2 separate regions of the Homo sapiens genome follow, and region 2 is linked to region 1. Evidence: fine-mapped expression QTL. Tissue or cell type: whole blood. Region 1 holds a variant in brackets; the other region holds the start of a gene. All regions are shown on one strand. Distances are between the middles of the regions.

Region 1 (8,103 bases):
CCTCAAGTAATCCACCTGCCTCAGCCTCCCAAACTGCTGGGATTACAGGTGTGAGCCACTGCGTCTGGCCTTCTCAATCCTTTAGCAAAATGTGAAGAGCAAAGAGCTGCCATGGGCCAGGCATGGTGGCTCACGCCTGTAATCCCAGCATTTTGGGAGGCCGAGGTAGGCGGATCACGAGGTCAGGAGATCGAGACCATCTTGGCCAACACGGTGAAACCCCAACTCTACTAAAATACAAAAAAAAAAAAAAAAAAAAAATTAGCTGGGCATGGTGGCGCATGCCTGTAGTCCCAGCTACTCAGGAGGCTGAGGCAGGGGAATCGCTTGAACCCAGGAGACGGAGGTTGCAATGAGCTGAGATCACACCACTGCACTCCAGCCTGGTGACAGAGCAAGCTGCCATCATCATTCCATTTTGAAAACAAAATAAAAAACTGTTGTTAACTACCAAAATCGTCCAGGTCTAGCTTTTTACCACAGCTGTTTGCCCAGTTTTAGTCTCAACTTTCAATGGCCTGAGGGAACAGTCCTCTTTCCTCTCCTGGAAATTTGTCCTAAGAGATCAGAGTGGTTCTCTAGAAATAGATATTCTGGCTCTGGCAAGAGGGGCCAGAGGCAATAGGCATCACCTTCTTGTTCAGTTCGATGTTCTCCAGCACCTTGATGGCCTGGTAGTAATCTCCTAACAGGGAGTGCAGGCGGAGAAGCCCGACCAGGCTGAAGTAACCAAGCATTTTGTAGAGGGAGTGCCGCCCATACTCCCCAGCCACACTCTCAGGGTCACCTGAAAGAGACAGACACCGTGAATACTGATAGGAGGCAGGTAAAGGCAGGCACACCTGACCTCTGAATGTTACTCAGTAGGCATCTCACCTACTGCCAGCCTTGAAAGCTTCCCTCAACAACTGGGGAATAACTTCAAAGGAATACCAAGAAACAGCAAAACCAATCTTATGCTAATCTTCGATTTACCAATATTTGCTTACAGGATGGCAGTTCATTTTGCTTATTTTTTTTTTGGTCCCAACACATGCAAAGGCCCCTCTCATCAGTAAAATACAACCACGAAGACTCCTCCTTTCAGAAAGCACATGAGGTCAAAGCTATTTTCCTAATAACAACACTAAGATGTTACTTGCCCTTCCCACTGAGTTGAATTTTGCATGATGCAAACACTATGTTGGGTAAAATTACTGTCAACTTAAGCATAAATCAGGCAACGACACAAAATTGTACCAGTAGTCACTGCATTGCTTCTTGCCATGCATTTGCACTAAAAGAACTAGTCCTTAGCCAGGCTTGGTGGCTTAGACCTCTAATCCCAGCAACTTGAGAGGCCGAGATGGGAGGATGTGCTTGAGCCCAGGTACCATATCTGAATAACCAGAGATTGTTGTATCAGTTGTTTTTTGTTTGTTTGTTTGTTTTTTGAGACTGAGATCTATGGAAGTGCTACTGCATTTTGGCCTGGGTAACAGAGAGACCCTGTTCTAAAAAAAAGACAAAAAAAAGAAAGAAAATTCTTTTTTCATTTTTACTTGAAAAAAACAACTGATACATAGGTCGGGAGCGGTGGCTCACGCCTGTAATCCCAGCACTTTGGGAGGCTGAGGTGGGCAGATCACGAGGTCAGGAGATCGAGACCATCCTGGCTAGGTGAAACCCCGTCTCTACTAAAAATACAAAAAATTAGCCGGGCATGGTGGTGGGCGCCTGTAGCCCAGCTACTTGGGAGGCTGAGGCAGGAGAATGGCATGAACCCGGGAGGCGGAGCTTGCAGTGAGCCCAGATTGCGCCACTGCACTCCAGCCTGGGCAACAGAGCGAGACTCCACCTCAAAAAAAAAAAAACAAAAAAAACTGATACGCAACTGAGCGCAGCTCATGCCTGTAATCCTAGCATTTTGGGAGGCCGAGGCGGACGTATCACTTGAGGTCAGGAGTTTGAGCCCAGCCTGCCCAACATGGTGAAGCCCCGTCTCTACTAAAAATACAAAAATTAGATGGGTGTGGTGGTGCACACCTGCAGTCCCAGCTATTGGGGAGGCTGAGGCAGGAGAATTGCTTGAACTTGGGAGGCGGAGGTTGCAGTGAGCAGAGATTGTGCCACTGCACTCAAGCCTGGGCTACAGAGCAAGACTCTGTCTCAAAAAAAATAAAAATAAAAAAAGAAGGAAAAAAGGGCAGACATTTTCACAAAAATGAAGTAAACCTGTCATACCTCAAAGAAAATAACTGACAGTGTTTGCTACCTATAAAACAGTTCAAAGGTTGGGCACAGTGGCTCACACATGAAATCCCATGAGTTCAAGATTGGCCTGGGCAACAAAGTGAGACCTTGTTTCTACCAAAAAAAAAAGAAAAAAAAATCAGCCAGGTATGGTGGTGCAAACCTGCGTTCCTAGCTACTTGGGAGGCTGAGGTAGGAGGATCACTTGAGCCCAGCAGGTAGAGGATGCAGTGAGCCATGATTGTGCCACCGCACTTCAGCCAGGGTGACAGAGTGAGACCCCATCTCAAAATAAATAAAAATTCAAGCTATTAAGCAAAAATGGAATTTTGTAAAACTTGTATCTGCCACTACAAGCTCTATAGCTTACAAATAAATGCTTACCTGATGTCAGTGGCAAAAGTAACAAATCTGACTTTTTAAAAAAATGTAATAAAATGTGTCAACATTTGGAAGATCTTTATAACTCAGAGAACCAATATTTTTTTAGAAATCACACATGGCCAGGCGCAGTGGCTCATGCATGTAACCCCAGCACTTTGGGAGGCCGAGGCAGGCAGATCACTTGAGCTCGGGAGTTCAAGAGCAGCCTGGCCAACATGGTCAAACTCTGTTCTACTAAAAATACAAAAATCAGCCCGGCGTGGTGGCGTGTGCCTGTAATCCTTCCTTTCTATATCCCTGGAGGCTGAGACAGGAGAATCGCTTGAACCCCGGAGGCAGAGGATGCAGTGAACTGAGATCATGACATTGCACTCTGCCTGAGCAACAGAGCAGATTCTGTCTCAGGAAAAAAAAAAAAGTCACACATGGATGTAAGGAACTCATTCAAATTACAGAAGTGACGAATAACGTTAACAAAAGAAAAATTCACCAATACAGTTTCAGATTCCTCACTGCACCTAATCTGTATGAAACTACCACTGGTTACTTCAAAGAAGTACAGGGTGAGTATACTTCTATAAATGCTTGTGATCAGAAGTGTTTTGGATTTTGCAATTTTTAATATCTGCATATGCCTAATGAGATATCTTTTTTTTTTTTTTTTTTTTCCCCGAGACAGAGTCTCGCTCTGTCACTAAGACTGTAGTGCAGTGGTGCGATCTCGGCTCACTGCAACCTCTGCCTCCCTGGTTCAAATGATTCTCCTGCCTCAGCCTCCCAAGTAGATGGGATTACAGGTGCCCACCACCAGGCCCGGCTAATTTTTTGTATTTTTAGTAGAGATGAGGTTTCACCATGTTGGCCAGGATGGTCTTGAACTCCTGACCTCAGGTGATCTGCCCGCCTCAGCCTCCCAAAATGCCAGGATAATAGGCGTGAGCCATGGCACCCGGCCCTAATGAGTATCTTAAGGATAGGATCCAAATCTAAACATAAAATTCATTTATTTTTCATATATGTCTTATACACACAGCCTGAAAGTAACTTTATTATAATCTTTTAAATACTTTTGTGCATGAGACGAAGTTCTGACTGCAACTGCTCATATGAGGTTGGGTGTAGAATTTTCTACTTACGGCGTCATGTTGGTGCTCAAAAAGTCAGATTTTGGAGCATTTCAGATTTCAAATTTTCAAGTCAGGAATATTCAACCCATACATACTACTACATGGTGTAGTATCAAAGAAAATCCTCTCCAATAATCCTGGCACTTTTGGGAGGCCAAGGCAGGACTGCTTGAGCCCAGGAGTCCAAGACCAGACTGGGTGACACAGC[G/A]ACACCCTGTCTCAAAAACAAACAACAAAAAAACTTCCTATAACCGTGTGAAGCCAGATTTTCCTTCTTTTTTTTTTTCAGACAAGTTCTCGCTCTGTGGCCCAGGCTAGAGTACAGTGGTGTGATCTCAGTTCACTGCAATCTTTGCTTCCTGGGCTCAAGCAATCCTCCCACCTCAGCCTCCCGAGTAGCTGGGACTACAGGGGCACCCCACCCACCATGCTCAGTCAATTTAAACATTTTTTTTGAGACAAAGTCTCACTATATTGCCCAGGCTGGTCTCAAACTCCTGGACTCAAGCGATCCTTCTGCCTAAGCCTCCCAAAGTGCTGGGATTACAGGTGTGAGCCACAGTGCCTGGGCCAGATTTTCTTTATGTGCTTCAAACAAAAGAACACATTGCAACAGATTGAATGCAGAAGCAGAAATGAGAAGCCAGCTATCTCAGCCAGACAGAGAGATCTGCAAAAATGCCACTCTTCACTGAAAAAAAAAGAAAAAAATTTTTTAAAATAGATACATTTTGTGGTTCTCAATATTTTAACAGGGTAAAGTGGCTCTGACACCAACACGTGTGAGAAGTGCTTATCTAAACAAAAGCACTGGAGACACAGAAGTGTTTACAAACGCAAATCTCAATGTGCTGGTTCAGTCTGTTGGCCAATGGACTCCCAAGCCCCAGAGCCCCCAGCACAAATACTCTGCTACTGTTTGTACTCAAGCACCTACAAAGAGTCAACAGACCACCACCTAAGACATGGTGACTCATCTGCTCTCCTTGCAGTGATCTATTCATTTGGAACAGATGGCAAGCAGCTGGAAATTCGCAGGCCACGGCTGTCGGCCTGCTGCACTCACCTCCGCTTGTGTATACCTCCAACTGTCGGTTGATGTTGGATTTGTCTACCAGGGAATGAAGGACATTGAGGACACTATGAACATTCCAGATTTTGGGATTGGAACGAAGAAAGTCAATCTCCTCCTCTGACTTCTTGGCAGTCTTACAGCGGTACTGACTGAATGACTGAAACTGTTGAGGAAGAAAAGAAACATGCAGTAGTGGTATAAGCCCAAAGTGATCATCCATGTCCACAATGCTGAAAACGAGGCAATGCTCTGGCTCTGGATGGGGCAAGGTGAGGGTGAGATGACCACTTCTCATTCTAAACCATTCCGTACACTGTTTTTCAAAGCCATCTTGACTAAACTGTGAATTCTGTTCATTACTGAATGTTACTTACTACACAGTGAAGTAAAAATCTCTAGGATTAGAGGTAGTCTGTGGTAAAAACATCCAATCTGGAGTCAAACACAACCCAAAGTCACTTCCTGTCTCTGGGCCTCACAATGCAGTTGACCGGGCCACCAGAAACACCACAGGGGCTCTTGTACCATCTATTCAGATGCAGCTAGACTGTGGTACGCCCTGGGTTATGGGCAGTGATGTGGTAATAGGTATCTGCACGTGTGAGCCTTCCCTACCACAGCTGACCATCAGTTCCCAGACTATGTCACCTCTCTACCACTCTCAACCAGAGTCGTCTGGCCAAGCACAACGAACACAGAGAAGATATGCCACAGGAATCTGTTTGGGACAGAAGTAGAACCTGGAAGCACTCCTGGCCTGGCTCCAGCAGTCACACAGATGGAACACAACAGACCTACCTACTCAATTTTTTAAAGTTCTCTGGTTGAATCTGGTGTGCATCAGGTTTGGAAATCACAGACCTAAAACCTAGGTCTTAGAAGATCTAAGACTGTTCTTCAACTCTTCCAGCAGAGATCAGAGGCTCACCCCTGTAAACCCAGCACTTTGGGAAACTGAGGTGGGCAGATCACTTGGGTCCAGGAGCTCAAGACCAGCCTGGGAAACATGGCAAAACCCTATCGCTATAAAAAACACAAACGAATTAGCCAGGAATGGTGGCAGGCACCTGCAGTCTCCGCTACTAAGGAGGCTGAGGTACGGGCTTTGCCTGAGCCCAGGAGGCGGAGGCTACAGTGAGGTGAGGTTGTGCCACTGCATTCCAGTGTGAGTGACAGAGTAAAACTCTGTCTCAAAACACAAAAAATTATCTTCTTCTAGACTGTGGGACAAAATGCTAATTTTGTAATATAAAAACAAAGAATATGCCAGGCACGGTGGCTCACGCCTATAATCCCAGCACTTTGGGAAGCCAAGGTGGATGGATCATGAGATCAAGAGTTCGAGAACAGCTTGGCCAACATGGTGAAACCCCATCTCTACTAAAAATACAAAAACAGGCCGGGTGCGGTGGCTCATGCCTGTAATCCCAGCACTTTGGGAGGCCGATGCAGGCGGATTACCTGAGGTCGGGAGTTTGACACCAGCCTGACCAACATGGAGAAACCCCATCTGTACAAAAAATGCAAAACTAGCCAGGTACAGTGATACATGCCTGTAATCCCAGCTACTCGGGAGGCTGAGGCAGGTGAATCGCTTGAACCTGGGAGGCAGAGGTTGCGGTGAGCCAAGATCGCACCATTGCACTCCAGCCTGGGCAACAAGAGCAAAACTCCGTCTCAAAAAAAAAAAAAAAAAAAAAAAAAGCACCAAAACAAAAATAGCCAGGTGTGGTGGCACATGCCTGTAATCCCAGCTACTCGGGAGGCTGAGGCAGGAGAATCCCTTGAACCTGGGAGGCAGAGGTTGCAGTGAGCTGAGATCACGCCACTGCACTCCAGCCTAGGTGACAGAGCAAGACTCCGCCTTAGGGGGGAAAAAAAAAGAATATCCAGAATATATAAAGAATTCTCAGGCTGGGTGCGGTGGCGCTTACACCTGTTATCCAAGCACTTTGGGAGGCCGAGATGGGTGGATCCCTTGAGGTCAGGAGTTCAAAACCAGCCTGGCCAACATGGTGAAACCCCGTCTCTACTAAAAATGCAAAAAAAAAAAAAAAATTAGCAGGGCGTGGTGGTGCACACCTGTAATCCAGATACTTGGGAAGCTGAGGCAGGAAAATCGCTTGAACACAGGAGGTGGAGACTGCAGTGAGCAGAGATCATGCCACTGCACTCCAGCCTGGGCGAAAGAGCGAGACTCTGTCTCAAAAAAAAAAAAAAAAAAAAAATCCTACAAAGAATTCTCGTAATGCAATTAAAAAAGCAATCAAATAGAAAACAGGCAAAGAATAGTGATGATCACTTCAAAGAAAACAAAATTGACAATTAATATGGGAAATCAGAAAAGTATGATTTTTTTTTCTTTTTCTTTTTTTTTTTTTTTTGAGATGGAGTCTCGCTCTGTCTCCGAGGCTGGAGTGCAGTGGTGCAATCTCGGCTCTCTGCAAGCTCCGCCTCCTGGGTTCACGCCATTCTCCTGCCTCAGCCTCCTGAGTAGCTGGGACTACAGGCGCCCACCACCATGCCTGGCAAATTTTTTTGTATTTTTAGTAGAGACGGGGTTTCACCGTGTTAGCCAGGATGGTCTCAATCTCTTGACCTCATGATCCGCCTGCCTCGGCCTCCCAAAGTGCTGGGATTACAGGTGTGAACCACCGCGCTGATTTTTTTTTTTTTTTTTTTGAGACGGAATCTCACTCTACTGCCCAGGGTGGAGTGCGGTGGTGTGATCTCAGCTCACTGCAACCTCTGCCTCTCGGTTCAAGTGATTCTCATCCCTCAGCTGCTGAGTAGCTGGGATTACAGACATGCACCACCAAGTCTGGGTAATTTTTGTATTTTTAGTAGAGACGGGGTTTCACCATGTTGGCCAGGCTGGTCTCGAACTCCTGGCCTCAAGTGATCTGCCCGCCTTGGCCTCCCAGAGTGCTAAGATTACAGGCGTGAGCCACTGCGCCCGGCCAGAATTTCTTTCCCATTGAACTGACAAAAATTAGACAGACTGATAATATCCAGTACAGAAAACAGTTGGTCTTGGCTAGGCATGGTGGCTCACGCCTGTAATCCCAGCACTTTTGGAGGCTGAGCAGGGAGAATTGCTTTATCCCAGGATTTCAAGACCCCATCTCTGCAACAAATTAAAAATCAGCTGGGTGCACCTGTAGTCCGAGCTACTCAGGAGGCTAAGGTGGGGGGATTGCTTGAGCCCAGGAGGTCAAGGCTGCAATGAGCTATGATCACACCACTGCACTCCAGCCTGGACCATAAAGGCAAGACCCCCATCTC
Region 2 (8,103 bases), 22 kb after region 1:
TTCTTTCATTCCTGTTCTAAAGCTTTTTAATAAACTTTCACTCCTGCTCTCAAACTTGCCTCCCTCTCTTCTTCTGCCTTGTGCCCCTCAGTCGAATTCTTTCTTGTTAGGAGTCAAGAACTGAGGATGCTGTCGACCCGTACAGATACAGACTCATCATCAGTAGCATTTTAGCCCTCAGTGTAATTCTTTCTTGTGAGGAGGCAAGAACTGAGGCTGCTGTAGACCTGTACAGATACGGACTCATCATCGGTAGCATTTTACCCCTCAGTCGAATTCTTTCTTTTGAGGAGGCAAGAACTGAGGCTGCTGGAGACCTGTACAGATACGGATTCATCATTGGTAGCATGTTTTGGTGTTGTGTCACTTCAACACCCTTCAGCTGCTAACCTCTTTTGGTGCCGCATGACTTGGATCCATTTGCTAGTGGTGAAAGACCTCGATGCTGCACCTTCTTCGGCTGGAGGTGTTCAACCTCCGAACAAGGTTTTCTCCCTTTCTCTCTCCTCACTAACTAACCCCCAGATCAATTCTTCTTGGTCATAAGTGACTCTGTTCCCATTGGCTGATCTCTCAGCTCAACCTAATGGGTGGCTTGCAGGGGCGGGAAGGACCTTGGAGTCCACACCAAGTAGAACTTAGGCTCACGAGAGTGGCAGGGGTGAGGCCTAAAACCATGCAATGTCTGAGGTTTCCTCTGCTTTTCAACTACAATCAGCTCTTTCAAAACAACAAAAAAAGAAAACACATGTCAGAGATCCTATTCATTGATCAATAGGCCTTTGGCTATTTGTTTTCTCTCCCTCATCCTTCTGACTTGCTTAAATTCTATTTCCTTGGTGAAGTCACTCCTGACTATCCCAGCTTTGACTGACCTATCTTATCTCTAACGCTCATTACACAACGGCAGCCCCTCAAAACCTGCGGAGTTCAGCTTGCTCTGATATGTACTGAAGGGCTGCATAGCACAGTTTAGAAATTAGGCTTTGGTGCCAGACACTGCAGGTTCAAATCTCAGCACATCCATTAAACTAGCTACATGACTTATTTCTGTGCTGTTTCCTCATCTGTAAAATGAGAAAAACTGCTACTTCATGGGCTTACTGTGAAGGGTAAATGAGTAAAAACACAAACAACACACTGAACATTGATGGATCTATCCTGGTAATAAAAACAAATGCTAATCATTATTATTATAATTGTTAATAGTGATATTATTTTAGGCTTTGTATAAATTTCTGAGGATATAAAGTCCAACAGGCCGGGCATGGTGGCTCACGCTTGTAATCCTAGCACTCTGGGAGGCCAACGGGGGTACATCACTTGAGGTCAGAAGTTCAAGACCAGCCTGGCCAACATGATGAAACCCCGTCTCTACTAAAAATACAAAAATTAGGCCAGGCATGGTGGCTCCCACCTGTAATCCCAGTGCTTTGGGAGGCTGAGGCGGGTGGATCACTTGAGGTCAGGGGTTCAACACACGCCTGGCCAACATGGTGAAATTCTGTCTCTACTAAAAATACAAAAAAATTAACTAGGCATGGTGGCACATGCCTGTAGTCCCAGCTACTCGGGAAGCTGAGGCTGGAGAATCACTTGAACCCAGGAGGCGGAGGTTGCAGTGAGCCGAGATCTTGCCACTGCACTCCAGCCTGGGCGACAGAGTGACACTCCGTTTCAAAAAATAAACAAATGCATAAATAAAATAAAGTCTAACAAAATAAAATGTCCCTAGCCTCAAGGACTCACAAAGACCCCCACCCCCCAACCCCCCCGAAAGTACTGTTTACAGAGTGCTCACCTCATTTGTAGGAACTATATTACCAGGCCAGTCCCACCCAGAAAGAGGCCCTTTCAGCCAGTAGCCCATACCTGTTCTCATAGATGTCCTGGATCTCATACACCTTCTGGTCAATGACATCACTGGAGACACGACTGGCCTGTAGCTCATACACTTTCTGGTCAATCAAATCTGAGACAGTTTTGTGGAAATACTGGATGAAGTTTTTGATCACCTCAGGGATCACCTGATAGGTTTGCTGTTCATACTGACGTTCATAAGCAAGGTCCTGCTTTGGATCTCCTGGAGGTTGGATACAACAAATACAGAGTATGCTCAAACCCACATATATGATAGAACGAAATGGCAAGACCACCCCAGAAACTAAACTCAGGTCTGCGTAAAATTCCCTTTTGAATACTCAGAGATACAAACATCTCAAGTCACTCCCAATCTCGTTGTCCCTGTTTCTTCAAAAATATTACCATGACTTAAAGTTATTTTTCACTTATTATCTGTTTTGCACCCTTCTCCCAAGTCTAGGAAGTCAGGAATCTCGTCTGTCTTGTACTCAGACATACCCTCAGGGCCTAGAAAAGTGTGCGTTGGAGGGGAGAGAGGCAAGACTGTTGGAAAGTAAGTGGTAACAGGTACTTAATATTTCTTGAATGAATAACTGTCACCTTTTAAATATATGACTGTGCCAAGTTACTACTAATAAACCTCTCTGCTATATTTTCTATTCTTTAGGAGACATTAACATACAGAACTGCTGTAAGGATTAAACAAAATATTTCATACAAAGTACTTAGAACAATGGATAACACTGACTACTAAGTCAAGTCACTATAACGTTTCAGGAAACCTCAGACACCTCCTAAAAAGATTTCATTCGGGCTTGGTTTGAATTACTTAAATTTTTCACATCAAGATTTTCTTCCTTGGGGCAGGCGCGGTGGCTCACGCCTGTAATCCCAGCACTTTGGGAGGTTGGGGCGGGTGGATCACCTGAGGTCAGGAGTTCAAGACCAGCCTGGACAACACGGCGAAACCTCGTCTCTATTAAAAAAATTTAAAAATTAGCTGGGAATGGTGGTGGGCGCCTGTAATCCCAGCTACTCAGGAGGCTGAGACAAGAGAACTACTGCTTGAACGAGGGACGCGGAGGTTGCAGTGAGCCGAGATCGCACCACTGCACTCCAGCCTGGGGGACAGAGGGAAACTCCATCTCAAAAACAAAAACAAAAACAAAAACAAAAAAGCTTTTCTTATTTGGCTAATAGTTTACACAAGAAAACCATAGCCAGGTAAGTAATCCTTCTCTTCCAAGACTGAGGTGGACTATGATAAAAAGCCTGGTTTATTAGGCTTTATAAAACCCCTCGCACTGGCAGCTAATGACTGACTCCAAACCTGGACCATCAAAGAGCAATTTTTGATGCCTGTCAGAGCTGGTTCTAAGACATTCCAAAGGAACTGATCCCTACGAGTACTCAGCCAGCCTAACCCGTGGTCTCACCTGTGTGCATATCATAGTCGCTGGGATAAGCGTAGGGGTCATAAGCCGCCTAGAAGGAAAGAGACACAGTCAAGGACAGCCGCCAAGTCGTGAATTCAAAACGCTCATCCTAGAGTCTAGATGCCAAGCAGAGAGCTAAGGATACAGAGGCGAATAAGACACTGTGCCTGCCTTTGAGGAACTCACACGCCTTAGAGAAAAGGGACAGTAAACAGACAATGACAATACAACATTACGGGTGCAATGAGGTGGAGCAAAGGACAAGAGGCTGTGGGAATCAGCGAGATTTGACCAGACGGAGCCTAGACCAAAAAAACTCAGGTGCAGAAACACAGAAACGTCTAACAGGCCTTAGTCTCCGGTCTTAGAAAGGGGAAGGACAAGCCAATCGAACACGCGAAGTGGGCGGGCAGAGCCAGGGTTGTCTAGGGACCGGGAACTGTGGGAGCAGCCTGAGGGCCGGGCGGGAGGTCGGCCGGAGCTGGCCGCGACCCGGAAGCTGCCTCGCGCCGGGACCCACATCCAGTGGTCCCAGAGATCACCCCGTCGTGGAGCCCACCGCGCCCTTACGGCCACCTTACCTCAGACTCATAATCATCAGCGGGATAAGACATGGCTGCCTCGCTTGCGAGCACCGCCGGAAAGAGCGAAATGAGCGGCCCGCGCCTGCGTCCTGAGGCCGGAAGTTCAGCCCCACTCGGGCCTGCCGGGAAACCGGAAGCCTTTCCGAGGCCTCTGGCCATCTGAGACAGCCATATCCAGAAGGAAGAGGAGCCGCGTTCCGTGGCTCACACCTGTAACCCCACCAGTTTGGGAGGCCGAGGCGGGCGGATCACCTGAGGCTGAGGCCGGGGGTTTGAGACCAGCCTGACCAATATGGAGAAACCCCGTCTCTACTAAAAATACAAAATTAGCCGGGAGTGGTGGCGCATGCCTGTAATTCCAGCTACTCGGGAGGCTGAGGCAGGAGAGTCGCTTGAACCCGGGAGGCGGAGGTTGCGGTGAGCCGAGATCGCGCCATTGCACTCTAGCCTGGGCAACAAGAGGGAAAACTCCGTCTAAAAAGAATAAGAGGGTTACAAGTAGCCTGAATTTTCCTCTCTTCAAATAGGGACTTCTCAAAGAAGGTGAATCTATAATAGTGGTGTAGATTCAGATATAAGGACACGTATTTGGCGTAAAGGAGAGGCAAAGTTAGAGGAACCAGAAAGAATGCTACACAAAAGATGGCCGGCTTCTCGCGTGAAGGAAGATTCGGATACGGGGGCCTGATGGATTTAGTTGTAGGCGGTTTGCCTGCAGCGAGTAAATTATTCAAACGTTCGGACTTCACAAGACTAAACTTACTGGGGATAAAAATTGAGATTTGGCCGGGCGCGATGGCTCACGCCTGTAATCCCTACACTTTGGGAGGCCGAGGCGGGTGGATGATCTGAGATCAGGAGTTCGAGACCAGCCTGGCCGAAATGGCGAAACCCCGTCTCTATTAAAAATACAAAAATTAGCCGGGAGTGGTAGCGTCCGCCTGTAATCCCAGCTACTCAGGAGGCTGAAGCAGGAGAATCGGTGGAACCTGAGAGGCAGAGGCTGTAGTGAGCCGAGATCGCGCCACTGCACTCCAGCCTGGGCGACAGAGCAAGACTCCGTCTAAAAAAAAAAAGAAAAAAAAAAATTGAGATTTGGTCCCATGCAGTAAGAGGGAATGGAGAACAGGAGCCACCCAACTTTGGACATTAAAGTTGGAGCAGGCAAAGATGAGGCCAGCTGTGTCGCGAAGCCTGGGACATGGGCAGCTCTTGAGTACACCGGGTTCGAGGCCAGGGGAAACCCTCAAGGTAGAGATGGGGTTATAAAGCAAACCAATAAAAACCGGTGTATGAGTCAAGGAGAGGCCTTAGTTTAGCCATCTGCCCATACACAACACCTAGTGGAAATCCGAGTTCCAGTCCCTACTCCGCCACTGATTTGCTGTGTGACCAGGACTCTCTGGGTCCCTTTGTCACGCCGCCCTCCTTGCTTTTCCCACTGAGGCACGCTCCACCTCTGGGATTTTGCACTCACTGTTATCCAAGTCTAGAATCGAATGCAGTGGCACCCCCACTCCCATTCCCTTCCCCATCGGTATCTGCATGGCACCTTCAGGTGTCTGCTCTGATGCCATCCACTCAACATCCTATTGAGAATTGCAATGCCCAGCCCCAACTCCCTATGCTGCGTTCTTGTTTTGTGTTTCTTCCTTGTGCTGTCACCAGAGGTGACACAAATTTGGAAATAATGGAGCTTAAGCTTTACCGACCCTCGATTTGGTTCAGGACCTTCCCTGAACCAAGGAAGAGTCACAGTCTCTTCCTTGGTTCAGGGAGGGTCCCCAACAATGTCCTCATGGTCCTTTGCTTTTGTAAAATTTGTGAAATATTTTTATTGCTGAAACCACCTTTGCAAAAATTGTAACAGTGAGAAAATAATGACAGTGAAAGAGATCTGATCTAACCAACCCTCATCTTCCATTTAATCTTCAGACTGCCCTTAATCATTCCTGGCTCGAACCGAGCTAACTTTGGGAGACATTTAGTTTCTAGTTTAAATAATAACCCTTCTCCGAGGCCTGGCACAGTGGTTCACACCTGTAATCCCAGCACTTTGGGAGGCCAAGGCAGATGGATCACCTGAGGTCAGGAGTTCGAGACCAGCCTGGCCAACATAGTGAAACCCCGTCTCTACTAAAAATATAAAATTAGCCGGGCATGGTGGCATATGCCTGTAGTCCCAGCTACTCGGGAGGCTGAGGCAGGAGAATCACTTGAACCTAGGAGGCGGAGGTTGTGGTGAGCCAAGATTGCACCACTGCACTCCAGCCTGGGCAACAAGAGCAAAACTGCCTCAAAAAAAAAAAGAAAAAAGAAAAGAAATTGGCCGGGCGCGGTGGCTCACGCCTGTAATCCCAGCACTTTGGGAGGCCGAGGCGGGTGGATCATGAGGTCAGGAGATCGAGACCATCCCGGCTAAAATGGTGAAACCCCGTCTCTACTAAAAATACAAAAAATTAGCCGGGCGTAGTGGCGGGCGCCTGTAGTCCCAGCTACTTGGGAGGCTGAGGCAGGAGAATGGCGTGAACCCGGGAGGCGGAGCTTGCAGTGAGCCGAGATCCTGCCACTGCACTCCAGCCTGGGCGACAGAGCGAGACTCCGTCTCAAAAAAAAAAAAAAGAAAAGAAATTACCTGAAATCTTATAGTCCATATATGACAGGAATTTGATACAGGTTGCTCCAATTTGACAACAATTCTCAAAATGTTCATGACATTTGAGAAGGAGTTGTGAAGTCAGAAGATTTTCATGGGGCTGGATGTGGTGGCTCATGCCAGCACTTTGGGAGGCCAAGGTGGGAGGATCACTTGAGCTCAGGAGCTCAAGATCAGCCTGGGCAATATAGTGAGACCCCATCTTAAAAAAAAATTGGGGCCCAGGCACTGTGGCTCACTCCTGTAATCTCAGCATTTTGGGATGTGGAGGCAGGAGGATCCCTTGAGGCGAGGAGTTCAAGACCAGCCTGAACAAAAAAGTGAGACCATGTCTACAAAAAATCAAAAAAATAATTAGCCAGGCACGGTGGTACACATCTGTGGCCCCAGCTACTCAGGAGGCTGAGGTGGGAGGAAAGCTTGAGTGCAGTGAGCTGTGATCACACCACTGCACTCCAGCCTGAGTGACAGTGAGAGATCCTGTCTCAGCACTGTATCCATTATGGGGCAGACGAGGAGAGTACAAATAAACATAGCATTTTTTTCCATATAGTACAATGATAAACCTCACAATGGCGACTGCAAACACTGAAAATTCTGGAAGTGCTTTTCCAATTGTAAGAGAAAGATTACTTTTTTTTTTCTTTTTGAGATGGAGTCTTTCTCTGTCGCCCAGACTGGAGTGCAGTGGTGCGATCTCGGCTCACCGCAAGCTCTGCCTCCTGGGTTCACGCCATTCTCCTGCCTCAGCCTCCTGAGTAGCTGGGACTAAAGGTGCCCACCACCACACCAGGCTAATTTTTTTGTATTTTTAGTAGAGACGGGGTTTCACCATGTTAGCCAGAATGGTCTCAATCTCCTGACCTCGTGATCTGCCTGCCTCAGCCTCCCAAAATGCTGGGATTACAGGCGTGAGCCACAGCGCCAGGCCTTTTTTTTGTTTTTGTTTCTTTCTGAGATGGAGTCTCGCTCTGTCACCCAGGCTGGAGTGCCATGGTGCGATCTCAGCTCACCGCAACCTCTGCCTCCCAGGTTCAAGCTACTCTCCTGCCTCAGTGTCCTGAATAGCTGGGATTACAGGCGTGCGCCACCACACCCAGCTAATTTTTGTATTTTTAGTAGAAACGAGGTTTCATCATGTTGGCCAGGCTTGTCTTGAACTCCCGACCTTGTCATCTGCCCATTTTGGCCTCCCAAAGTGCTGGGATTACAGGCGTGACCCACCGTGCGGAAAGATTACATTTTAACTGGGTTGAGTGGGAGGGTTTATATATGGAAAGAACTTTTGCCAGGACACAAGACCTGGTCCGGTGAGAGCTGGGCAACTGTGAATGAGTCTCTTCCCTCTGCTTTTCAACTCCTCACCTATAAAATAGGGATGGTCCTTCTTGTCTACTTTATAGAAGTGCTTGTGGGGTACGGGATTGTGAGAAGTTTTATGAAAACGTGCACCCATGAAATGTTGCTTGAGGAACACTTATTTGTTTCCTGGTCTTCTCCCATTGGATTGTGAGCATCTCAGGGGCACCAAGTCTGATCCTGTGTCCAGGACCTAGCAGTTACC

What was found. PIP is the estimated chance that this variant, and not a neighbour inherited with it, causes the effect.
Region 2: EIF3L starts here. The variant in region 1 is fine-mapped to the expression of EIF3L in whole blood (TOPMed, PIP above 0.99).

The regions. Positions count from the first base shown.
Region 1 is chr22:37,867,054-37,875,156 of GRCh38, reverse strand. It overlaps EIF3L (eukaryotic translation initiation factor 3 subunit L), which reads right to left. Exons shown (of 13, transcript NM_016091.4): 8 at 4,810-4,981; 9 at 633-787. Among named protein-coding and RNA genes, the nearest start is that of EIF3L, 22 kb to the right of the region's middle. The variant G/A (reference allele first, on the strand shown) is at 3,952.
Region 2 is chr22:37,845,260-37,853,362 of GRCh38, reverse strand. It overlaps EIF3L (eukaryotic translation initiation factor 3 subunit L), which reads right to left and starts at 3,944. Exons shown (of 13, transcript NM_016091.4): 1 at 3,881-3,944; 2 at 3,300-3,348; 3 at 1,873-2,083. The coding sequence starts at 3,913. MIR659 (microRNA 659) reads left to right here and starts at 5,589; the gene lies at 5,589-5,685. It also overlaps a transcript of ANKRD54 not described here. RefSeq lists a silencer at 767-1,061 and enhancers at 3,258-3,779, 3,780-4,302, 4,303-4,825.